7 linked regions of the Homo sapiens genome follow. The protein of the gene in region 1 purifies or fractionates together with the protein of each later gene. This does not show direct contact. Each region holds a gene or a part of one and is shown in the gene's direction. Other genes may lie near its edges.

Region 1 (4,091 bases):
TTTTGTTTTTGATAAAAGAACTCTTATAGAAAAGGAATCGCTGCAAATTTCTTTTAGCTAGCTAGCTCTCTGGGCGATTAAAATGATTGATACATTTCTAGAACACATGCACCGAGATACACCTGCACTCGTACTTTGTCCGTCAAAACAATCTTTGTTTTCTCTCAAGCTAGGACTTGCTGTGCCTAAGACACACCTCGTGCAGCGGTGGCGGTGAAGGTGCTGGGGTGACAGCCAGGAGGGCACTTTCCCTTTCTCGGGCTCCCTAACCAAAACTTTGCAGCCACCAGCCCAAACTCACGTTCCTGCTCGTTCTTCTTTCCCCTGCCTCAACTCTCCCCGCACCCTTCGCGCTCTGTGCGCCCACCCCTGCTTCCGTCGGTCAGCTTCAGCCGACCTACTACTCAACCTACCGGCCCGCGCCCTCCGCCTCCACCTGCACCACTCGCCCACCCCGAGAACCCACCTCTGCCGCCCCCGGCCCGCGCGCCCCGTCGCGGCCCGGGGCTCCGGGGCATGCGCGTTGCGGCGCCACCGCCCTCCCCCACGCCTTCCCGCGGCAGAGTTATGCCAAGTATGTGAGGAGCCGGCGAGGGCCAGCGCCGGTCATGGGGAGCCGCCGCCGCCTCCGCCTCCGCCTCCGCGAGCGCGGTTTTCTCCCCAGCGGGGCTCCGACCTCTCCCCCTGGCGGGGGTGAGCCTCGCGGCTAAGGCAGAGGGGATGGCGGACCCTCTGAGGAGGACGCTGTCCAGGCTCCGGGGAAGGCGGGGTCCCCGCGGCACCGGGGGGCTAGGGCTCCGGGCGGCAGCCGCAGCTGCGGTGGCGGCCTCTTCGGCAGCCGCGGGAGACGCCTGGGGTGCCGCAGACACCCTCCCACGTGAGCACGCCGGGGGACACGGGCGGAGCCTACAGCAGCCCTCGCCGTCACCTGAGGCGTGGGGTCCCGGGGCGCGGGTCCCCGGAGGGCACCCGGAGCAGTTGGGGGCGCTCGGGCCTCGGCCGCGCGGCGGGCAGGAGGCCGCCCCCCAGAGCCATGGGCTCGCTCACGCCCCTCCGCACTCCCCGGAGGGCTCCGAGGACAGCGGAGAGGAGGAGGAAGACGACAAGGACGAAGACGACTACGACGCCGACTACTACGAAAACCTGCCCGGCGGCTCGCAGTCTGCGCCCGAGCCTGAGGGGGCGGAGGCGGAACGGCGTCCCCCGCCTCCCCCAGCGGCGGGCTCCTCCCTGGGGGCGGAGGGCGGCCGCCTGGAGACAGGCAGGCTGCGGACCCAGTTGCGAGAGGCCTATTATCTGCTGATCCAGGCCATGCACGACCTGCCCCCTGACTCGGGCGCGCGGCGGGGCGGCAGGGGCTTGGCGGATCACAGCTTCCCCGCGGGAGCCCGGGCTCCGGGCCAGCCGCCTTCCCGCGGCGCCGCGTACCGCCGAGCCTGCCCCCGGGACGGGGAGCGGGGAGGCGGCGGACGCCCTCGGCAGCAGGTGTCCCCGCCCCGGTCGCCTCAGAGGGAGCCGCGGGGAGGCCAGCTGCGGACTCCTCGGATGCGGCCGTCCTGCAGCAGAAGCCTCGAGAGCCTCCGGGTGGGTGCCAAGCCGCCTCCCTTCCAGCGGTGGCCGAGCGACAGCTGGATCAGGTGCGGCGCGCACCGGGACTGGGACGAGCCCCCGCCACGTGGAGGCAGGATGGACGGCTGGAGTGGGGACCGCGCCCGGGCGGCTGCACCCACCGGCCTCCAGCCTCCAGGCTGCAAGGACCACGGCTGCTCCTCGGGAAGCCCTTTCAGGGATCCAGCGGGGTCCTCTGTGATACGCAGTGGCAAAGGAGACCGCCAGGAAGGCCCCTCCTTCCTCAGGCCGCCGGCAGTGACAGTCAAGAAGCTGCAGAAGTGGATGTACAAAGGGCGTCTGCTGTCCCTGGGAATGAAGGGTCGTGCCCGTGGGACGGCTCCCAAAGTCACAGGAACGCAGGCAGCCTCCCCAAATGTGGGCGCTTTGAAAGTGCGTGAAAACCGTGTCCTGTCGGTGCCTCCAGACCAAAGAATTACGCTGACAGGTAGGATACTTTGCGATGAAAATGCTAGCACCGCGAGCCTTACTGTTTACCGACTGGGCTTCTGTCTTAAGAGCCAAGAAAAAGTTATGTTTTTGCGACAGGTACGTTACCGGGCGAAAGTAAGTGTCATGTAAGTGGCAGCTTAAAGTAATTTCGGGGTTACTTAATGTAATGCATTTACTCGTTTTGCTTTTTTTTTTCTTTTTAATCAGACAATGGCATGAAGAATTGAGGTTGTGATTTCTTCTCGAAAAACCAGTGTGTCTATTCCCTAAGTATTACCTAAAGGAGTAAAGGTTAAGTATAACACACTTTTAGTAGGTTTACAGATGGGCGGCACTGTCTTGATTTTTATTCTTTGTAGCTCTAGGCAAATCCGTAGACTTTTGTGGAGTTTGTAAATTTGAATTTGATTCAAGGTAGATTTTATAGGCTTCATAAACTGTCATTTTACTCATTACAACTTTTTTTTTTTGCCTCTCCCAGGCACGCACACACATGCATACATACACACAACCAAAAACCCAAACAAATCAAACAAAAAAAACCCTACCATAAGTAGAATTTTTTAGTCAGGTAGTATTTCACATACACCATCTCTCCACCTGCCTCCCCCCGACAAAGAAACCTCAACAAAGTAATCTTTTTATTGTGAAAAATCAAGGACACTAACATTTTAATCAAAAGAAAAATGTTCCTCAGGTAGTTTTGTTTTTAAAGCAGTCATTTGCAAACTTAAATCCTATTTATAAGAGAAGTAAATTAGTTTTTTAAAAAGTATATTGATCCTTATAATAGGATTAAGCTCCCTATTTTGTATGTGCATGATTTTTAACTATCACTGAAGGTTTAGGTTATCAATTCTAGAAACCAGTCAATTATGTTGTAAATATCAAAATATCTTTCCTGAAAGGAGTATAATATCTTCAAAGTGAGCCAAAACAACATGGTCTTTTGAATACTCTTACATATAAAAATTTTTAGTGATCATAAAGACTTATAAGTCAGGAATAATTTGGAAAACATTAAATCCTGAAATGTAAAAGGTATTCACAGTACTTGGCGGTTTCTCTGGTAGTAATTATAAATCCTACAGGACTGGATTTATACACATTAACTTTGTTTAACCAATAAACACACAACAGTGGGGAGAAACAAAGTTCACAAAACTTCTTATCAAACAATGAAGACAAATCAAATGATTCATTCAAAGTGTGTGCCAACTTGCAAAGTTTTTTCCTGTCTATACGGCTCTAATACACACCTGTCAAATTTTATTCTCAAGGTTAAATATTCCATTTCACTTGAACAAAAGGATAATAGAATGTAAATTCTTTGTTGAGAGGTGTACTTTATACTAAGTTCATATTAAACATGCATTTCCAGGAGTAATTTGTAATCATTTATTATATTTTATTGCCACAATATTTTTACCTCCCCCCCTTTGGCTTAGTTTTAACTCTTGGTACCATAGTTGAATTTCAGCCATAACAAAAAATAGTCAAATATTTTTCACCCTTTTGTCACAGAGCTAAAACACTTACCATGTGATGGCTTTTAATGCCCTCAGTAGTAAACATTCAAGGATTTTTAAAGTAATAAATATAGTTCCTTTAAGAATGAATTTGATTTTTGCATTAAGCAACTAATTAAATGAAACTGCTAACTTAGAAATTAAAATGAAACAATTATTATGTGATAATATTTTAGATATTTTATGAGAAATCTAAGCCAAAGCTACCATAATCTCTGGTTTAAACAACTCTCAGATGTTACTTCCTTTTAAACCACTAATTCATTTTTCAGGAGAGATGAAAATAATTTGTGCAGTGTTTACATATCTAGTATAGATTTGGAGAGCTTTTTAAAAAAATTATTTTTCATGAAGTTTAGTTGGTCTTACTAAGTCCATTCTGGATACATTAGGTGGTTCTCATACAATTTTTATAGCCCCCAAAATGGAGATATGCTGTCATTTAACAACAGCTACAAGAAAAAGAACAGAGGGATTAAGCAGTTTGCCCAAGATCACTCA
Region 2 (3,500 bases), on another chromosome or scaffold:
ATTGTCTCAGAATTATTTCTGTCAAGCCAGACATTGTGCCCTTAACATGTGCAGTTCATCCAGGCAGCCATTAGTCATTCGTCAACAGAATAGAGCCCACTGTGTGCCAGACACTGGCCTGGGTGCTGGGCTTTTACAGTGAGATGAAGTATTGGTTCTTTCCTCTTGGAAACTTAGTGCACAATGGAGAAAAACAAATATTTACACTACACTATGATACATGCTATCATAGAGGTGTGGGCAGAGAGTTGTGCTATGCACATAAAAAAGCAAGGCTTCCTCTAAAGAAAAGGCAATTGGGTGAAGAAGAGATGGGGAAGGGAGGAAGAATCAGGGAAGGCTTCACTGTGGAGGTGACATCTATCAGAGAAAGAAGGTAGCAAAGGGTATTCCAGAAAGACAAAACAGTATGTGCAAGGGCCTGATATGTGGTATGTTCAGAGACTGGGCAGAAGCTTGGTGGCTGAAGTGTGCAAGGGATGGGGGCGAGAGGTGATAGGAAATGAAGCTAGATGTGAGACACCATTAGCAGATGCTATAAATGCCATGCCGGGGAGTTTGGATTTTATCCTGTAGGCAGCAGGAGAGCTGTTGGACAGTTTTAATGGGAGAGTTGCATGATCATGTCTGATTTTTAAGGAAGACTGTAACAGCAGACATGGATTGGAGGGAGAAGAGGGGCAATCATCATTTCATCTAAAAGCCCCTCCAGGAAAGTCTAGAATCTTTGCACAGAAGCTTTTTGAGATAATTAAGCCCCACTGGTGAATTGGAGCAAACAGGTTCAGCTTTGCAGTGAGCCAGCAGTAGTAGCTTTTGGCCAGCAGCTGCTTTTTCCTTATAACAGCCCTGTTGCCATGGTAACGGGAGAAGTGACCCACCCAGAGACGTTGATTTAAATGTTCATGGCCATGTCGTCCATTTAGCATGCACAGATCTTGGCACACTTCCTTCCCCTAGAAGTGTCTCTCTGGGGCTGCTGATGCCTGTCTGGTCTGTGGCTCTCCCAGGAATCAGCCCTGGACTGACATGGTAGTGGCTTCCCCATGGGAACTGAAGACAGATGCCTCAGTGGCTTGTGTTGAATATCTCTGCTTCCTAGTCACTGTCCCTTTCCCAAAGCACACTCACTCATCACTTCTCTCTCTCACCACATCCTGCCCATCTTTGAAGACTCAGTTGAAGCCCTGCACCTTCGCTGGGCCCGCTAGCCCTGATCATTCTGGCCTCCTTTGGTTCTTTTTCAGAGCACTTTTTGGAGCCATATACAATTACCTATTCCTCCTCTGAACTCTAAGCTTTTTCTCACTGGTTGTTTGGTACTTAATTTTTAAATGTATTCTGCCATTTATGTGTTGTTTGACATCACTGACAGTTTCCTGGGTCAGCATCCTGTCTCCCCAGTCAGACTGTAAACTAGCAGGCATCATCTTTCTGCAAATGCCTTGCCCCATGTTCTTCCCATTGCTGCCAGAGTAAATCTTTAAAAGGTCAGGTCTGACCACTCAAGCCCTTGCTGAAACTCTTCACTGGGTCACTTTTGCCTTTGAGTGCTTACAAGTCTCCATGGCCTGGCTGCTGCCAACCCCTTCTACCACATCTCCCCCGGCACTTGACGCTCCAGCTGCACACTCTTCTGTCTGCCTGGAACGAACTGCCCTTGACTTCTCACCTGTATGATTCCAGTGTGTCTTGTGGACATCCTGGAAAGACTCCCTGTCCCTCATAAGAATGGGCTATGTGTCCCTCTTTCTATTGCCATGGCATTCTATACTTGCCTATTATGGCCCCATTAGATGTCTTAGGGGCAGGGACATTGTCTGGATTAACATTGTTTTTCCAGTGCCTAGCACAGTGCTTAGCACAGAGAACAACCAATAAATATTTGTTCCAAAAAACGAGTGACTGGTAGGTAGACAATTAATGATTGTTACAGGAAATAAATATAAGGTGACTCCTTAATTTGGGATGGGGGGGATTCCTTAGGGTTTTTTTTTGTTTTTTTTTTTTAAACCATTGATTTTGCCCTAAAAGAACAGAAGGGAGCATCTCTCTTCTATGAGTTTCTCCTCTACAAATGGCTCAGGACAGGACACCAGGGACAATGGATGGAGGCAACATCAATCCCCTTCTGATTTCCTGCTTCCTAAGATTGTAGAGCCACATGTGAGAGGAACTCGCAAGCACATGTTGTTCATAAGCTGCATTTTATTTATTTTTTATTTTTTTGTCCCAAACTTTTATTATTATTATTATTATTATTATTATTATACTTTAAGTTTTAGGGTACATGTGCACATTGTGCAGGTTAGTTACATACGTATACATGTGCCATGCTGGTGCGCTGCACCCACTAACTCGTCATCTAGCATTAGGTATATCTCCCAATGCTATCCCTCCCACCTCCCTCCACCCCACAACAGTCCCCAGAGTATGATGTTCCCCTTCCTGTGTCCATGTGATCTCATTGTTCAATTCCCACCTATGAGTGAGAATATGTGGTGTTTGGTTTTTTGTTCTTGTGATAGCTTACTGAGAATGATGATTTCCAATTTCATCCATGTCCCTACAAAGGACATGAACTCATCATTTTTTATGGCTGCATAGTATTCCATGGTGTATATGTGCCACATTTTCTTAATCCAGTCTATCATTGTTGGACATTTAGGTTGGTTCCAAGTCTTTGCTATTGTGAATAATGCCGCAATAAACATACGTGTGCATGTGTCTTTATAGCAGCATGATTTGTAGTCCTTTGGGTATATACCCAGTAATGGGATGGCTGGGTCAAATGGTATTTCTAGTTCTAGATCCCTGAGGAATTGCCACACTGACTTCCACAATGGTTGAACTAGTTTACAGTCCCACCAACAGTGTAAAAGTGTTCCTATTTCTCCACATCCTCTCCAGCACCTGTTGTTTCCTGACTTTTTAATGATTGCCATTCTAACTGGTGTGAGATGGTAACTCATTGTGGTTTTGATTTGCATTTCTCTGATGGCCAGTAATGGTGAGCATTTTTTCATGTGTTTTTTGGCTGCATAAATGTCTTCTTTTGAGAAGTGTCTGTTCATGTCCTTCGCCCACTTTTTGATGGGGTTGTTTTTTTCTTGTAAATTTGTTTGAGTTCATTGTAGATTCTGGATATTAGCCCTTTGTCAGATGAGTAGGTTGCAAAAATTTTCTCCCATTTTGTAGGTTGCCTGTTCACTCTGATGGTAGTTTCTTTTGCTGTGCAGAATTTAGATGGGGAAACAGGCCCAAGGAAAGGAAGAGGCTTTTCCAAGACTGTCTATCTGGTTTAGCAGGAGGGACAATGACATTATGGAAGCTTCAGAGAAGGGAAAGAGCTTCTGTCTGTGTAGCTCATTGCCCCAGGCACTGCTCTGCCTGCCTGTGAAGCACCAGAGCTGGGTCTGAGCCCTGTGAGTACCTTTAAGGGCAGTGCCCTATTTCATTCATTTGTTTATTTAACCAGTACTAAGCACCTACTCCACCAC
Region 3 (3,500 bases), on another chromosome or scaffold:
ATCCAGTTTCACCTTTCTACATATGGCTAGCCAGTTTTCCCAGCACCATTTATTAAATAGGGAATCCTTTCCCCATTGCTTGTTTTTCTCAGGTTTGTCAAAGATCAGATAGTTGTAGATATGCGGTGTTATTTCTGAGGGCTCTGTTCTGTTCCATTGATCTATATCTCTGTTTTGGTACCAGTACCATGCTGTTTTGGTTACTGTAGCCTTATAGTATAGTTTGAAGTCAGGTAGTGTGATGCCTCCAGCTTTGTTCTTTTGGCTTAGGATTGACGTGGCGATGCGGGCTCCTTTTTTGGTTCCATATGAACTTTAAAGTAGTTTTTTCCAATTCTGTGAAGAAAGTCATTGGTAGCTTGATGGGGATGGCATTGAATCTGTAAATTACCTTGGGCAGTATGGCCATTTTCACGATATTGATTCTTCCTACCCATGAGCATGGAATGTTCTTCCATTTGTTTGTGTCCTCTTTTATTTCCTTGAGCAGTGGTTTGTAGTTCTCCTTGAAGAGGTCCTTCACATCCCTTGTAAGTTGGATTCCTAGGTATTTTATTCTCTTTGAAGCAATTGTGAATGGGAGTTCACTCATGATTTGTCTCTCTGTTTGTCTGTTGTTGGTGTATAAGAATGCTTGTGATTTTTATACATTGATTTTGTATCCTGAGACTTTGCTGAAGTTGCTTATCAGCTTAAGGAGATTTTGGGCTGAGACAATGGGGTTTTCTAGATATACAATCATGTCGTCTGCAAACAGGGACAATTTGACTTCCTCTTTTCCTAATTGAATACCCTTTATTTCCTTCTCCTGCCTAATTGCCCTGGCCAGAACTTCCAACACTATGTTGAATAGGAGTGGTGAGAGAGGGCATCCCTGTCTTGTGCCAGTTTTCAAAGGGAATGCTTCCAGTTTTTGCCCATTCAGTATGATACTGGCTGTGGGTTTGTCATAGATAGCTCTTATTATTTTGAAATACGTCCCATCAATACCTAATTTATTGAGAGTTTTTAGCATGAAGGGTTGTTGAATTTTGTCAAAGGCTTTTTCTGCATCTATTGAGATAATCATGTGGTTTTTGTCTTTGGCTCTATTTATATGCTGGATTACATTTATTGATTTGCGTATATTGAACCAGCCTTGCATCCCAGGGATGAAGCCCACTTGATCATGGTGGATAAGCTTTTTGATGTGCTGCTGGATTCGTTTTGCCAGTATTTTATTGAGGATTTTTGCATCAATGTTCATCAAGGATATTGGTCTAAAATTCTCTTTTTTTGTTGTGTCTCTGCCTGGCTTTGGTATCAGAATGATGCTGGCCTCATAAAATGAGTTAGGGAGGATTCTCTCTTTTTCTATTGATTGGAATAGTTTCAGAAGGAATGGTACCAGTTCCTCCTTGTACCTCTGGTAGAATTCGGCTGTGAATCCATCTGGTCCTGGACTCTTTTTGATTGGTAAGCTATTGATTATTGCCACAATTTCAGCTCCTGTTATTGGTCTATTCAGAGATTCAACTTCTACCTGGTTTAGTCTTGGGAGAGTGTATGTGTCCAAGAATTTATCCATTTCTTCTAGATTTTCTAGTTTATTTGCGTAGAGGTGTTTGTAGTATTCTCTGATGGTAGTTTGTATTTCTGTGGGATCAGTGGTGATATCCCCTTTATCATTTTTTATTGCATCTATTTGATTCTTCTCTCTTTTTTTCTTTATTAGTCTTGCTAGCAGTCTATCAATTTTGTTGACCCTTTCAAAAAACCAGTTCCTGGATTCATTAATTTTTTGAAGGGTTTTTTGTGTCTCTATTTCCTTCAGTTCTGCTCTGATCTTAGTTATTTCTTGCCTTCTGCTAGCTTTTGAATGTGTTTGCTCTTGCTTTTCTAGTTCTTTTAATTGTGATGTTAGGGTGTCAATTTGGGATCTTTCCTGCTTTCTCTTGTGGGCATTTAGTGCTATAAATTTCCCTCTACACACTGCTTTGAATGCGTCCCAGAGATTCTGGTATGTTGTGTCTTTGTTCTCGTTGGTTTCAAAGAACATCTTTATTTCTGCCTTCATTTCGTTATGTACCCAGTAGTCATTCAGGAGCAGGTTGTTCAGTTTCCATGTAGTTGAGCGGTTTTAAGTGAGATTCTTAATCCTGAGTTCTAGTTTGATTGCACTGTGGTCTGAGAGATAGTTTGTTATAATTTCCGTTCTTTTACATTTGCTGAGGAGAGCTTTACTTCCCAGTATGTGGTCAATTTTGGAATAGGTGTGGTGTGGTGCTGAAAAAAATGTATATTCTGTTGATTTGGGGTGGAGAGTTCTGTAGATGTCTATTAGGTCCGCCTGGTGCAGAGCTGAGTTCAATTCCTGGGTATCCTTGTTGACTTTCTGTCTCGTTGATCTGTCTAATGTTGACAGTGGGGTGTTAAAGTCTCCCATTATTAATGTGTGGGAGTCTAAGTCTCTTTGTAGGTCACTCAGGATTTGCTTTATGAATCTTGGTGCTCCTGTATTGGGTGCATATATATTTAGGATAGTTAGCTCTTCTTGTTGAATTGATCCCTTTACCATTATGTAATGGCCTTCTTTGTCTCTTTTGATCTTTGTTGGTTTAAAGTCTGTTTTATCAGAGACTAGGATTGCAACCCCTGCCTTTTTTTGTTTTCCATTGGCTGGGTAGATCTTCCTCCACCCTTTTATTTTGAGCCTATGTGTGTCTCTGCACGTGAGATGGGTTTCCTGAATACAGCACACTGATGGGTCTTGACTCTTTATCCAATTTGCCAGTCTGTGTCTTTTAATTGGAGCATTTAGTCCATTTACATTTAAAGTTAATATTGCTATGTGTGAATTTGATCCTGTCATGATGATGTTAGCTGGTTATTTTGCTCGTTAGTTGATGCAGTTTCTTCCTAGTCTCGATGGTCTTTACATTTTGGCATGATTTTGCAGCAGCTGGTACCGGTTGTTCCTTTCCATGTTTAGTGCTTCCTTCAGGAGCTCTTGTAAGGCAGGCCTGGTGGTGACAAAATCTCTCAGCATTTGCTTGTCTGTAAAGGATTTTATTTCTCCTTCACTTATGAAGCTTAGTTTGGCTGGATATGAAATTCTGGGTTGAAAATTCTTTCCTTTAAGAATGTTGAATATTGGCCCCCACTCTCTTCTGGCTTGTAGGGTTTCTGCTGAGAGATCTGCTGTTAGTCTGATGGGCTTCCCTTTGAGGGTAACCCGACCTTTCTCTCTGGCTGCCCTTAACATTTTTTCCTTCATTTCAACTTTGGTGAATCTGACAATTATGTGTCTTGGAGTTGCTCTTCTCGAGGAGTATCTTTGTGGCATTCTCTGTATTTTCTGAATCTGAACGTTGGCCTGCCTTGCTAGATTGGGGAAGTTCTCCTGGATAATATCCTACAGAGTGTTTTCCAACTTGGTTCCATTCTCCCCATCACTTTTAGGTACACCAATCAGACGTAGATTTGGTCTTTTCACATAGTCCCATATTTCTTGGAGGCTT
Region 4 (3,500 bases), on another chromosome or scaffold:
ACCCAACAATAACAGATGCAAGTCTGTCGCTCCCAAGCAGAAGAATGCAAAATGACACAGCAGAAAATGAAACTACCGAGAAGGAAGAAAAAAGTGAAAGTCGCCAAGAAAGATACGAGATAGAGGAAACAGAAACAGTCACCAAGTCCTACCAGAAGAATGATTGGAGGGATGCTGAAGAAAACAAGAAAGAAGACAAGGAAAAGGAGGAGGAGGAAGAGGAGAAGCCAAAGCGAGGGAGCATTGGAGAAAATCAGGTAGAGGTGATGGTGGAAGAGAAAACAACTGAAAGCCAGGAGGAAACAGTGGTAATGTCATTAAAAAATGGGCAGATCAGTTCAGAAGAGCCTAAACAAGAGGAGGAGAGGGAACAAGGTTCAGATGAGATTTCCCATCATGAAAAGATGGAAGAGGAAGACAAGGAAAGAGCTGAGGCAGAGAGGGCAAGGTTGGAAGCAGAAGAAAGAGAAAGAATTAAAGCCGAGCAAGACAAAAAGATAGCAGATGAACGAGCAAGAATTGAAGCAGAAGAAAAAGCAGCTGCCCAAGAAAGAGAAAGGAGAGAGGCAGAAGAGAGGGAAAGGATGAGGGAGGAAGAGAAAAGGGCAGCAGAGGAGAGGCAGAGGATAAAGGAGGAAGAGAAAAGGGCAGCAGAGGAGAGGCAGAGGATAAAGGAGGAAGAGAAAAGGGCAGCAGAGGAGAGGCAGAGGATAAAAGAGGAAGAGAAAAGGGCAGCAGAGGAGAGGCAAAGGGCCAGGGCAGAGGAGGAAGAGAAGGCTAAGGTAGAAGAGCAGAAACGTAACAAGCAGCTAGAAGAGAAAAAACATGCCATGCAAGAGACAAAGATAAAAGGGGAAAAGGTAGAACAGAAAATAGAAGGGAAATGGGTAAATGAAAAGAAAGCACAAGAAGATAAACTTCAGACAGCTGTCCTAAAGAAACAGGTACAGTAAACATTTTGCACCAAATGTGTGATGCCTGTGACTTGTGAGAAATGTAATGCACATCTGATTTGGGACTGAGGCCACATGCATATAGCTCACATGCTTGATCATTTGGCAAGCTGTTCATTTTTTCAGGCCATAGCGATACACAAGCATGCAGCAATTGATTGATGGCTGAATATTCAATCAACCAAATTTACTGGGACAGCCAGTAAATTTGGCTGTCCAGAAGACAGAGAGAAATTAATTGCTCTGTGCTTGATTGTTATGAATACCCAAAAAAAGAATTAATCCAAAGATGATAAATGTGGTGGTGGTGTGTTGGCTTCTGATTCTGTGCTTGCATCTAAACTCGTTCTTTTAATTATCTTTCCTCTATCCATAGGTCTGCATGAGGCAAGAGGCCCATAACTCCTTACCTCACTCATGGGTTTGACGTTGAATTAAAAAAATGATAAAAGCTGGGGTGGGAAAGAGACATGAAGAATAATGGTCAGACATTTCATCTTAAGAAGGCAAAAACAGGCTGGGTACAGTGGCTCACACCTGTAATCCCAGCACTTTGGGAGGCTGAGGTGGGTGGATCACAAGGTCAGGAGATCGAGACCATCCTGGCCAACATGGTGAAACCCCATCTCTACTAAAAATACAAAATTAGCTGGGTGTACCGGCACATGTCTGTAATCCCAGCTACTCAGGAGGCTGAGGCAGGAGAATCACTTGAACCTGGGAGGCAGAGGTTGCAATGAGCTGAGATTGTGCCACTGCACTCCACTGGGCAACAGGGAGAGACTCCATCTCAACAACAAAAACAACAACAACAACAAAAAGGCAAAAACAAACCCCTGGAAATTAACTGGTAATAAAGAGGGGGAAAGGAACTGGTTGGAAACTTTCCTTAAAAAAAAAAGTCAAAACCCTGATTTGCCAACATGTAGACCTCAGCTTAATGTAGACTTGCAGAAAGCCATTAATTTAGGGTAGTATTGATTTATATTTGACTGGTAATTAAGAGCATACATGCTGCTTCTTTATTATCTGGGTGACACAAATTCATGTGGCCTGAGGAAGGGTGGAAATAGTAGGGGGGAAATGTTTGTAAGCTTTGAGAAAGATTTTTTTTCTGTCTGCAAGACTGCATTGAAAGCACTGTACCTAATCACCACCACACCACCACCACCACTCCTAAAAAAAGAAAAAAAGAGATGCTTTCACATTCACCTTTCCAGAGCAAATTCTCTGTCACTAAGCCTGCATTGCACTGAAGGTATCTTTAACTCCTGCTTCTGTACAAGAGGCTCATGAACACAGCTAAAATTGAGACCATGAGCAAAGTGCACCAAACCACACACGAGGTTTGTAAACACACGAGGAGTGCCACATCATGCTAGATTTCAGTGAGCGCAATGGCAGGCACACGAGAAGATGTTGGGGTGGGAAGAAAATATCCCACCTTGCTGTTTAGAACCACTGTGCTGTGAGCGCTGAGACGGCAGAAGAGAAGCCATCCCACGCAGCACTTGCAAGGCGATCCGAGCACCCTGTCACTCTTGTAAACTAGAAAGGGCTTCTTTTACTTGTGTGACCTTACCATTCTTGAAAATAAAAAGGGAGAAGAGAAGGGAACTAAAGTGCAAGCTAAAAGAGAAAAGCTCCAAGAAGACAAGCCTACCTTCAAAAAAGAAGAGGTAAATATGATTGAAAAGTAATGATCGTAAAGCAACAGAAAAAGCAGTCAGTGTTCCAAGATATCTCAGGTCTGATGATCTCAAAATTGTAACCTCATATCCAGTGTATTTCAAGCCATGACTCACAGTCCACTGAATAGTGAGATCAGCTTAGAGTGTCTCAAAATTAATTAAATGTATCAGTCAGCATTTTTTAAAAAATGAAATGGATAGAAGCCATCAGAGGGCATTGTAGGTAGTAAGTATTGCATTGTCAGGTAAATTGTCTTTTTTTCTGTGGGACGTCATCAAAAAGGCTTGAAAAACACTGCTGGAATCAATTTATCCTGTTTTCTATTCTTCTGAATGCTAATTTTTTTTCCTTGAGCCATTCTACTTTCATTTCAATCATGAAATATTTCCAACTGGCCTTGATTAATGCTTTAACTTTTCAAAGGAAAAACACCCACACACATCTCAGTAGAAAATATGGTGAACTGAAGATGATATTTGGTTTTCAAAAGAAAAGTTTGGCCAAATGTTCTGCATTGCATTTCTGAGGCACACACAGGAGCGGGTGCCAGGGTATTTGACTGTAGGTAAGTGAACAAGGAGCTATACAGATAGAATGGCACGGGGTTTGACAGTAATCAGAACACCACATCAGAACACTTGATTGCACTTCAACTCTCATGCTGTGTTTGCCCCAAATAATCTTAAAAATTGTGACTATATCGAATAAGTTCACAATACTTATTAGGATGTGGTGAAACTGAATTATTTGAAGTAGGAAGACCCGAAGTTCTTCGCCTATGAGACTGGTGAAGTGATTTGTAGCCAACATGCTCCAACCCATCTATTAAGAAAACTATGGCATCTATTAAGAAAA
Region 5 (3,500 bases), on another chromosome or scaffold:
GAAATCTAATAGGGGTACTACCACCTCTGTTCTAGAGCTCCTAGTGAGGATAAATACAATCCTAGCCAACTCAGTTTTCGTAATGAAGGAAAGGAATTGGGAAGAACTACACACAACAAGAGTCCTTTTTAAAGTCTGCCTTGGGGGAAGATGAATCAGTTTGACCAAATTTTTCCTAGAAGTGGGCCAGTGTAAAAGGTATTCTATAATAATAACTAAATTCTGAATCTCCGTAGAATTAAAGGTCAAGATTATCTACTTGGGTCCAAAATTAAACCTAAGAGGCTGTAGGTGGGAGGAGGGAGGAAATTGAATATAAGTAAAATTAAACCTACTGAGAGAACTTTGAAGATCCTTCCTCATGTGTGACATTGCACCTTTTTCCTTCATTTCCTTTAACACGGGCCAGTTTAGAGCCTTGGCTACTGTGAAAAAGCTATGAGTCATAGAGACCACATAAGGAATGAATGATTCTAAAGATAAGATAATTGCAGTAAAGAGTTATTCGTGCTATTTTGGGGTGAAAAAATCGACTTGATTTGTCAAAACAATTATTGTTATACCTGTAAATTCTGTATAAAAGGAATTCTTTATGGTCACATAAATCCAGAACCCAAATGAAATCTATTTCACGGCTTAGGAATGGTTTTTTGGAGCTAACCAGGAGGAGGCAGCTAGTTTCCCTTTTGGAGATATAAACTGTGCTCGGCATTATCCTTATGCCACATTTCCCAATTTAAAAGTAAGGAAGATGAAAAAAATTAAGTACAACTTGGATAAAACTCTAAAAGAGAAATACATAAAGGAATATTTGCAGTAGTTAAAAAGAAAAGACCCACTCCAGATCACACACTGGTACTCTGTGTGGATTAAAATTAATAGTTGACAAAAGCTGGTATTTGTAGGTAGCACCTTAAGGGGTAGGGTTAAGGCTGTGAACCTTTCAGAATGTTTTTGGTAGTAAACCCTTAGGAGCTTGCAGTTTAGGATCACAGCGTTGATCTCCTTGGGGAACCAATGGTATGTCATCATGTATGTGATATTTATGTCTCTTACAGGGACAGGACCAGATGGTAGAATCACCAAGAAGGATATCGACTCTTTTGTGCCTAGTAAAGTTGCTCCTGTGAGTTATGTGTAGCTCTTACTTTTTTTGCAGTTTGTCTCTACAGCCTGTTAGACCATTTCATACATTATTTATGAACGAAATAGCTCAACCAAGATTGTTTTCTTCTAATTTCAGTGGTTTAATAATACAGTCATCCCTCGGTACCCATGAGAGGTTGGTTCCAGGAGCCCCCTTGTATACCAAAATTCGCAAATGCTTAAGTCTCTTATATAAAATAGTGTAGTATTTGTATATAACTTACCCACATCCTCTCAAATACTTTAAATCATCTCTAGATTACTTATAATATTAAATACAAGGTAAATACTATGTAAATAGTTGTTATATTTTATTGCTTAGGAAATAATAATAAGGACAAAAAGTCTGTACTTGTGCAGTTCAGATGCAACCATCTGTTTTTTTCTGGAATATTTTTGATTTGCCTTTGGTTGAATCCAGTGATGCAGAACTTATGGATATGGAGGGCCAAGTGTATTTAGATATTTGTGTGCTATCATTTATATACAAGATCAAAGATGATATACTACATTGACATGTATTCCACATTATGTTTTGAGCTAGTTAATCGGTTTTTGCTTTGAAATAAAAGATTTGTTCTTTTTTTCTTTTTCAAAATATTTTAAAGTACAGTTGAATGAGTTGTTTTTGGTGTTTGGTTTTTTTTGTTTGTTTGTTTTTGAGACAGTCTCACTCTGTCGCCCAGGCTGGAGTGCAGTGGCGCGATCTTGGCTCATTGCAACCTCTGCCTCCTGGATTCAGGCGATTCTCATGCCCCAGCCTCCCAGGTGGCTGGGACTACAGGTGCATGCCATCACACCTGGCTAATTTTCGTATGTTTAGTAGAGACAGGGTTTCGCCATGTTGGCCAGCCTGGTCACGAACTCCTGGCCTCAAGTGAGTCATTGTGAGGCTCAAGTGAGCCTCCCAACCCCCTTTTCTTAACATTGTTTAGGATAATGGATTAGCTTGTTTATACTTATTTATTATTCCTTGCAACTTAAGAATGCTTCCATTGCTTTTCTTGAACATAATTTTGCAAAAACAAAATTATTTTGACACAAACTGGTCATTGAACATACTCTGATACAAAGAAAAATGACACTTAAAACATGACTTCAGAATTCTAAGTAAAAAAATTAAAACTCTTAAAACAAGCAGAAGTCTCTTTTGCTCACTGGGGACAGAAATAGGTATTCTATAAAGCTTAGTTTTTAGACTGGACATGGTGGCTCATGCTTGTAACCCCAGCACTTTGGGAAGCCAAGGTGGGTGGATCACTTGAGCCCAGGCATTTGAGACCAGCCAGGGCAACGTGGCTAATTTCCGTCTCTACTAGAAATCCAAAAAAATTAGCTGGGCATGTTGGCGTGCACCTGTAGTCCCAGCTACTCTAGGGGCTGAGATGGGAGGATTGCTTGAGCCCAGGAGGTTGAGGCTGCAGTGAACCATGATTGAGCCACTGCATTCTAGCCTGGGTGACAGAGCAAGACTCTGTCTCAAAAGACAAAAAAAAAAAACTGCATAGTCACTGGCAGTCTTTCCCAGGTACTTACGCTAAGATTGAATCACAGTTACTAAGAGCTTTTTCTTTCCTCCCATAGGCTCCGGCAGCTGTTGTGCCTCCCACAGGTCCTGGAATGGCACCAGTTCCTACAGGTGTCTTCACAGATATCCCAATCAGCAACATTCGTCGGGTAAGAGAATTACCATCATCTGGAATCAGCTGTTAGGGGCATCTTTAGGTTGTTTAGTTGCTTCCATAGTTTTTAACACATTAACAGAGGCTTTTTAAGTTGGGAATATTGGATGATTACTTTAAGGGAAGTTTTGGCCAACTGAATACTTGAATCACTTTGTTCCTATTAGAAGGGCCAGGCGCAGTAGCTCATGCCTGTAATCCCAGCACTTTGGGAGGCCAAAGCGGGCAGATCACAAGGTCCAGACTTCGAGACCAGCCTGGCCAACATAGTGAAACACCCCGTCTCTACTAAAGATACAAAAATTAGCCGGGCATGGTGGCACATGCCTGTAGTCCCAAGTACTCGGGACGCTGAGGCAGGAGAATTGCTTGAACTTGGGAAATGGAGGTTGTGGTGAGCCGAGATCGCACCACCGCACTCCAGCCTGGGCAACATAGCGAGACTCCATCTCAAAAAAAAAAAAAAATCTAGGAGGTGTTATATTATGGCGGAGTCCTCCATCTTTCAATTATAATAATGCTTGAGGTAAGTATTAGCAGAGAGTAAGGTGAAGAGACAAACAGAGCCCTAAATTAGTTAAGGTCTTAACTCAAGATAATTGATTTTTTAAATCTCTTTGGTTTCAGGTTATTGCACAGCGATTAATGCAATCAAAGCAAACCATACCTCAT
Region 6 (3,500 bases), on another chromosome or scaffold:
AGTAGTCGTGGAAGATGTTTGAACAATGCCATGAGAGGATTATTCTTTATAGAATATTATTCTGACAGCAGTGTACAGATTTGAAGATGAGAGGCTTATTGAGAAAAGGTTTATTAGAAAGTCATTGAAGTTGCCCACAATGATAAGAATATGAACTAGAGAAGTGACTCTGGGCTTATAAAGGAGAGGAGATTTAGAGACTTGACCTCTAATTTATGGATGGAGGAAAATGACAGAGAAGGTCTAACATAATTGTGAAGTTTGAAACATAGGAGATTGAAGAGATATACTTAGTGCCATTAACAGAATTAGGGAACTGAAGAAGAGATGGTTTGGAAGTAAAGGTGTTTTATTTTAGACATACTGAGTTTCAAGTTTTCAGTTATAGTTCTAGATTGTCCACTCTAGAATAGTGTGGTAGAATTTTACCTAGAATAGACAGGTAAAATTAGGACTGGAAATTTAGGAGACTGGACTGGAGAATAACACATTTGAGAATAAGCTGACTACAATTAATATTTAGCCTGAGGAAGTAAAGACCCTCCTCCTAACCCCCCAGGAGAAGAAAGTAGAAAGAGAATATGAGAGATCCAAGAGCAGGCTCTGGAAGGGCTAGCACAAGGAAAGTTGTACACACACACACACACAAACACACACAGCCTGTATAAGGAACGTTACACACACACACACACACACACACACACACGCACACACAGAGTCAGTCAAGAAAAGGAATGGTCAGAGTAAAAAGAAAAAGAAGGTGAAGATAGTGTCCAGTAAAAAAAGCCAAAGAAGAGAGTTTAATGGAGGAGGAGGTATAGTTAAGTATTTCAGGAAGGGTTTATTTATATATCAAGTAAAATTAAAAGGTGCTTTTAGACATATAAAGCAGTACTTAAATCCAAGTTCATGTTGGGCAGAGTGGAGGTATATCAGCCATTACAGTGTAACAAATGCCCATTTCAAAATTGATAGATAGTACTGCCTCGTTTTTCTCAACTCTAAAATAACAGTAATAGTAGTATTTCATTGGGTAATTATAAGGTTGAAACAGGATAACCCATGTGAAGCACTTAGCTGAGGGTCACACACTAGTAAATATTTGTTAAATGTTAGCTTCATTTATAACAATAAATGTTAGCTTCATTTATAACAATAAATGTTATCTGACTGACTGACTCTGGCTGTTTTATAATGGGGGAAAAAACGTTTGTTTCCAGGTTTTTTGTTTGTTTTTTTGTTTCTGTTTTTTGAGGAGGTGGGAGACCTAATGTGGGTGTTGGCAAACTATGGCTGGTGGGCCAAACCTAGCCCATTACCTGTTTTTGTATAGCAAACTGGTTGGAGAAAAAAAATAAAAAAAAGTCATTGTCCCTAAAGTTTTATTGGTTACAGCCACACTCAATCATTTGTGTATTAATATTATCTGTGTTCCACAAAGCCTAGCATTTACAGTGTAGCCCTGTAAACTCACCAATCAATAAGCAGCTGTCTCAGTACCTATCATATTGCACAGAATATTAGAGTTCGCAAACTTTCTTGGTCATTGGAGCCCCTAGTGTTTGGTAGGATTTTTTCACAGTGCCACTGGCAAAAGGAATTGCCTGTTTGTCTCATTAAGTAGTTTGATGGAAATGTGATCAAAATGGCAGTTTGTGCAGTGTCTATGAGATGTCACTGTGCTTCTCTCAAAACTTTAAAATATTCTACAGAGCCCCCGTGATTTTGTTGTGACACTCTGGAGCACTTTGGTGCACATTTTAGGAACTGAGGAATGCTTAGACACTATTGATAGCAATTCATTACTGGAAGTACCAGAGGTATATCTTTATAACAGTTTTGTCCATGAAGTGGCCCTCAAGCATCATCATGGGGGCTTTAACAAGCCCTGTTAACCTGCTAATTATAGCAAATGTTGGCAATAGATATGAAAGAAATGATTTTTAAAAAATTATTAATACCCTATGCTTGTGGCAACTAGTTAGTTGCTGTATTCACCAATCTATATAGTTAACTGTGGTTGAGTATAGAATTTCTAGAAGTGAAGTTGATGAAGTGATCTAAAGATAACAGAGGTTGCATTTTTAGGGTTGTTGGAAAGCCCTTAAAATAGCATAAATATTTGTACATAAAATTAGTTTTTATTATAGTTGAAATAGTTAATGTTTGGTGGGGAAATCAGTAAATTTAAGGCTGTGATGTTAAAAAAAAAAGTATTATAATTGGAAAAATATCAGTTACTAGTTTTTGTTGATTATATTGGACACAAAATTTTTTAACCAGAGTATATACATGGATTAAAAACAAAATTCATGTGCAGTAGTTTGTTCAGTCACATGCTATATTATCTACTCTGTATGCCTTTTAATTGCTTTAGAAGTTTATTAGATTTTTTTCAGATTATCTCATGCTAAAATTAGAACTTGTTCCCAGTGACTTTTAAAGATTGGATCATTACCCAATTATTGGGGTTAATTATAAAATTATTTTCAAATGAAGAAAATATTTTTTGTTCATAACTTCCCTTTTCTGTTTTCATGCTTTCAATCTTTGTCTCTTTACCTGTCTTATTTTAATTGGCTTTAGTATGATTTCATTGCTCCTATCATGCCTGTGGTGGAATCAGTAGATCCTGCATCATGGAGGCAGGGCTTGCGCAAAACTGGCATTGTTCTTGTGCCCAGTAAGGGTGAAAAATCTATGGTGAGGCATTTCTATGTGCAAGAATTTATATTAGGTTACAACATAACAAGTTTAATATAAATTGGTTCCAAAGATGCATGGTTTTAAGTCCTTATGGTGTGCTCATTTCTGTTTTCTGTATTTGCATCATAATTTTTCTGTGTGATATAAAGTGTGTAGTGTGTTTTCTTAAGTCTAACCCCTAGGAAGGTAGTCTATTTCTTTAAAATTTTTAGATCTTTACATTTTTTACTAAGACATTAACCTATGTAGTAAAAGTGTTTTATCCTGAAACTGTAAACCATAATTTTAAATATATTATCTGTAAACTTATTGTTTCCAATTTAAGGACTGATCAGCTTTACAAATTCTTTTTTCTTTTCCTAAAAAATAAAATAAACACAGTTTCCAACCACAGCTACAAAAATTTCTCCCAAAGAAGAAGAGAGAAAAGATGAGTCTCCTGCAACTTGGAGGTTAGGACTTAGAAAGACGGGCAGCTATGGTGCACTTGCTGAAATCACAGCATCTAAAGAGGGTCAGAAAGAAAAAGATACTGCAGGTGTTACACGTTCAGCTTCAAGTCCCAGACTTTCCTCCTCTTTGGATAATAAAGAAAAGGTAATCTATTTCACAGTCTGGTTTCTATGAAAACTGTTATGATTTCTTTTCCAGGAACATCAAATCTGGTAGATTTTCTGCTAGTTATCTTTAGATCTAGGTATCAAGTTAATTAACCTTAATGAATTACATAAGACAAATGTAATTTATACAGAATTATAAATACTGGAAAGATCAGATGTATTTGCCTAAAACAT
Region 7 (3,500 bases), on another chromosome or scaffold:
GCAGAATGGGGAATAGAAAGTAGCTAGGTGGAAAGCGAAGAAGCTCATTTATTGAACACTTGTGGCTAAGCCTTTTATAAAAATACTGTTTTATTCTATACGGTCCTGTAAGAGAACAGTTTAGAGAAAATCCTTGATTTTTGTACATTTGTAGAAAAATCATGTACATCATATGTAGATACCGCTAAGTCACTTTTTCTGAATTTGGATTGTTAAAATGTAAACATCGTGAAGGCAGGAACCGTAATTGTCCAGCTCCTCATACTTTTTCCTCAGCCTAGAACCATACTTGACATGGTTTGGTGCTCAGTAAGCATTACATGAATTAATCAGCCTATGAAATGATTATTTCAAGTTGGTGACGATAGTACTGCTTGACAGTAGTAATATTTGGTCCACTTTGTAATTTTTGCATTTCTAGCTGTGGAGCTACAGTTATTTGATACAATTAAACATTTTATTGAATTTACATTTTTCTTTTTTAAGTAGAAAAGAAAAGTGACAGTGCAAATGTAACTAAACCTAAGTCTTAAATGTAGTACATCAGAGACAAAAGATGGAAGTAATTATTATTAGACCCAAAGCAGTGAATCTGAAGTCCAGATGGCTGAAGTTCTGAGAGAAAAGAACCAAATATATAACATGAATATAATGTGAGAAATATATCATTATAAACATCTGTGACTTGAGGTCTTACTGATATCTTTTTTTTTTTTTGAGATAGAGTCTCGCTCTTTTGCCCAGGCTGGAGTGCAGTGGCGCGATCTCACTGCAAGCTCCGCCTCCTGGGTTCACGCCATTCTCATGCCTCAGCCTCCTGAGTAGCTGGGATTACAGGCGCCCACCCCCATGCCTGGCTAGTTTTTTCTATTTTTTAGTGGAGACGGGGTTTCATGGTGTTAGCCAGGATGGTCTTGATCTCCTGACCTCGTGATCCACCCGCCTCGGCCTCCCAAAGTGCTGGGATTACAGGCGTGAGCCGCCGTGCCCGGCCGTCTTACTGATATGTTTTTGTTCAGTGGGAGTTGGTCCTTCTTTGCCCATTCCCGTTTTCTTCTAACTTCCCTAGTAACAGAAAAGTCTCTTTTAATTAGTATATTTGATAATACTACTCATATATAAGAATCCATTATATAAAGAAGTAAAGAACTGTCTGTAACCCCGTATTACAGAAAATGTATACAAGGCTCATTTATACAAGTAAAAATGCAATGAATTATTCAAATAATTGTATACAAGTCTTAGGTGTTTTGGCCAAGATTACACAACTAGCAATTGACAAAACATTTGAATGTGGGTTGGTCCAACTTCAGATATTTTTTTCTTTATCACTGTGTATTATATTACATCTAAAAAGGTGCAGCTTAATATTTTTTCAAATATATACATTCATGTAACTACAGCCAGATCAAGATATGAAACATAATTGGCATCCTAGAAGTTTCTCTCATTTTGCCTCTTGGTCATTAACCACCCACCACCGGCAAACACTGTTCTGCTTTCATGCTAGACTTATTTTTGAATTTCTTGTCAATAAATTTCTGTTATGGACTGAGTACTCCATGAATAGTTGAAAAAGGATTTATTAACAATATCAAATGCAAGAAGAACTGAAAGGCCACTAGATTTGACAACAAGTTGGAGGAATTTTACTTATGCTTAAGAGTGCTGTATATTTAATAACTGGGAGGCAAGGAAATGAAGACAAGGGGTGTAAACTATTTTTCCCTTCTTAGCCTTATTTCTTGTGAAGTTTGTTACAGTAGAATGTTGAGTTATTGGCAAAAAGGTTTTTGAAATGGAAACAAGTCAGGCTTTTTTTTTTTACTGTTTTTGCCTTTTATTGAGCAAGTGACTTTAAAAATCAGTTTAAAATGTTTTTTAAAATATGTGTTAGCTGGGCACGGTGGCTCACTCTTGTAATCTCAGCATTTTGGGAAGCCAAGGTGGGAGGATTGCTTGAGCTCTGGAGTTCGAGACCAGCCTGGACAACATGGTATGAGATCTCATCTATACAAAATTTAAAAAATAAAGATAGAAATAAAATGTGTGTCACACTATCCATTTACTATGTGATTGTATAATTTGTTTGTACAAATGGAATATATTACTGTTTTGTTTAAGCTTTTCAGGATAATTTCTGTTTTTTTTTGTTTGTTTGTTTTTAGGAGTTATGGTACAGCACCTGTAAATCTTAACATCAAGACAGGGGGAAGAGTTTATGGAACTACAGGTAAAATTTGTATTTTCTGTTGCATCAATAGGGAAATAAGGCACATATCTTAAATAGGTCTTAATAGCTTTTTTTTTTAGTCGGGGACAGAGTCTGGCTCTGTCACTCAGGCTGGAGTACAGTGGCGCAATCTTAGTTCACTGCAACCTCCGTCTCCTGGGCTCAAACCATCCTCCCACTTCACCTTCTCAAGTAGCTGGGACTGCGGGCGTGCACCACCATGCTTGGCCAATTTTTGTATTTTTATGTAGAGACCAGGTCTCACCATGTTGTTCAGGCTGCTCTTGAACTTTCGAGCTTAAGTGATCTACCTGCCTTGGCCTCCCAGAGTGTTGGGATTCCATGTGTGAGCCACTGCGCCCGGCCAAGGTGATAATAGCTCTTTTTAAAGAGTAATTTTTGACCGTACATCACAGAGACTGGTAAAGTTTTTCTGGCAAGAGTCCAGTAGCACGTATTTTAGGCTCTGCTTTGTTTGGAACCCTTGCCAGGTTTTTTGCCAGGAATAGTAAAAAGATGTTTGTTTTCTGTTTGTGTGTGTATATGTGCCAGGAATAGTAAAAAGGTGTTTATATTTTCTGTTTGTCTATGGTATCGCCTGGCTTCTTGCAAGTATAGCTCCTTCATTTTGTAATTTTATAAAACAGGGACAAAAGTCAAAGGAGTAGACCTTGATGCACCTGGAAGCATTAATGGAGTTCCACTCTTAGAGGTAGATTTGGATTCTTTTGAAGATAAACCATGGCGTAAACCTGGTAAGATTATTGTGGATTATATTAATTTCAATATTTTCAGTGTGAAGTCATCAGAAAATTTTTTTGAACATCAATTTAGAATTTTATTTTTTCATTATAATTTTAATTGTCTTAAGCAAATGATGAGTAATAATGACTTGGGATTATTAAATCTTACTGGTGGCCTTGTATTACTTAAAATGTAGACTTATTGTTTATTATAATGGCGTTTGTAAAGGGAATAATTTGATCAAAAATGATATAGTCTTTTTGCCACCATAAATGATAGAGTGATAACTGATAGAACTCTAAATTTATATTTTTATAGTTTAGTATATTTTTGATGCTGCATAAAAATAGAGCTGAAATATTTGTACACTAAAGTTGTGTTTTATCTTTAGGTGCTGATCTTTCTGATTATTTTAATTATGGGTTTAATGAAGATACCTGGAAAGCTTACTGTGAAAAACAAAAGAGGATACGAATGGGACTTGAAGTTATACCAGTAACCTCTACTACAAATAAAATTACGG

Evidence for each region.
Region 2: the proteins of SYDE2 (region 1) and P4HA3 purify together in Homo sapiens (co-immunoprecipitation; one large-scale study listed by IntAct). This does not show direct contact.
Region 3: the proteins of SYDE2 (region 1) and DSG1 purify together in Homo sapiens (affinity purification with mass spectrometry, with the first as the bait; one large-scale study listed by BioGRID). This does not show direct contact.
Region 4: the proteins of SYDE2 (region 1) and CALD1 purify together in Homo sapiens (affinity purification with mass spectrometry, with the first as the bait; one large-scale study listed by BioGRID). This does not show direct contact.
Region 5: the proteins of SYDE2 (region 1) and DLAT purify together in Homo sapiens (affinity purification with mass spectrometry, with the first as the bait; one large-scale study listed by BioGRID). This does not show direct contact.
Region 6: the proteins of SYDE2 (region 1) and PPP1R12A purify together in Homo sapiens (affinity purification with mass spectrometry; one large-scale study listed by BioGRID and IntAct). This does not show direct contact.
Region 7: the proteins of SYDE2 (region 1) and FIP1L1 purify together in Homo sapiens (affinity purification with mass spectrometry; one large-scale study listed by BioGRID and IntAct). This does not show direct contact.

Annotation. Positions count from the first base shown.
Region 1 is NC_000001.11:85,198,217-85,202,307, reverse strand, and holds the start of SYDE2 (rho GTPase-activating protein SYDE2), read left to right. Parts: upstream 1-1,291; 5' UTR 1,292-1,311; coding exon 1,312-2,056; intron 2,057-2,065; exon of another isoform or gene 2,066-2,157; intron 2,158-2,268; exon of another isoform or gene 2,269-4,091.
Region 2 is NC_000011.10:74,280,641-74,284,140, reverse strand, and holds part of P4HA3 (prolyl 4-hydroxylase subunit alpha-3 isoform 1 precursor), read left to right. Parts: intron 1-3,500. UniProt on the Homo sapiens protein: Catalyzes the post-translational formation of 4-hydroxyproline in -Xaa-Pro-Gly- sequences in collagens and other proteins.
Region 3 is NC_000018.10:31,349,160-31,352,659, forward strand, and holds part of DSG1 (desmoglein-1 preproprotein), read left to right. Parts: intron 1-3,500. UniProt on the Homo sapiens protein: Component of intercellular desmosome junctions. Involved in the interaction of plaque proteins and intermediate filaments mediating cell-cell adhesion.
Region 4 is NC_000007.14:134,933,134-134,936,633, forward strand, and holds part of CALD1 (caldesmon), read left to right. Parts: coding exon 1-944; intron 945-2,554; coding exon 2,555-2,632; intron 2,633-3,500. UniProt on the Homo sapiens protein: Actin- and myosin-binding protein implicated in the regulation of actomyosin interactions in smooth muscle and nonmuscle cells (could act as a bridge between myosin and actin filaments).
Region 5 is NC_000011.10:112,042,408-112,045,907, forward strand, and holds part of DLAT (dihydrolipoyllysine-residue acetyltransferase component of pyruvate dehydrogenase complex, mitochondrial isoform 2 precursor), read left to right. Parts: intron 1-1,058; coding exon 1,059-1,126; intron 1,127-2,730; coding exon 2,731-2,823; intron 2,824-3,455; coding exon 3,456-3,500.
Region 6 is NC_000012.12:79,809,598-79,813,097, reverse strand, and holds part of PPP1R12A (protein phosphatase 1 regulatory subunit 12A), read left to right. Parts: intron 1-3,087; coding exon 3,088-3,303; intron 3,304-3,500. UniProt on the Homo sapiens protein: Key regulator of protein phosphatase 1C (PPP1C). Mediates binding to myosin. As part of the PPP1C complex, involved in dephosphorylation of PLK1. Capable of inhibiting HIF1AN-dependent suppression of HIF1A activity.
Region 7 is NC_000004.12:53,387,641-53,391,140, forward strand, and holds part of FIP1L1 (pre-mRNA 3'-end-processing factor FIP1), read left to right. Parts: intron 1-2,168; coding exon 2,169-2,233; intron 2,234-2,880; coding exon 2,881-2,988; intron 2,989-3,368; coding exon 3,369-3,499; intron 3,500-3,500.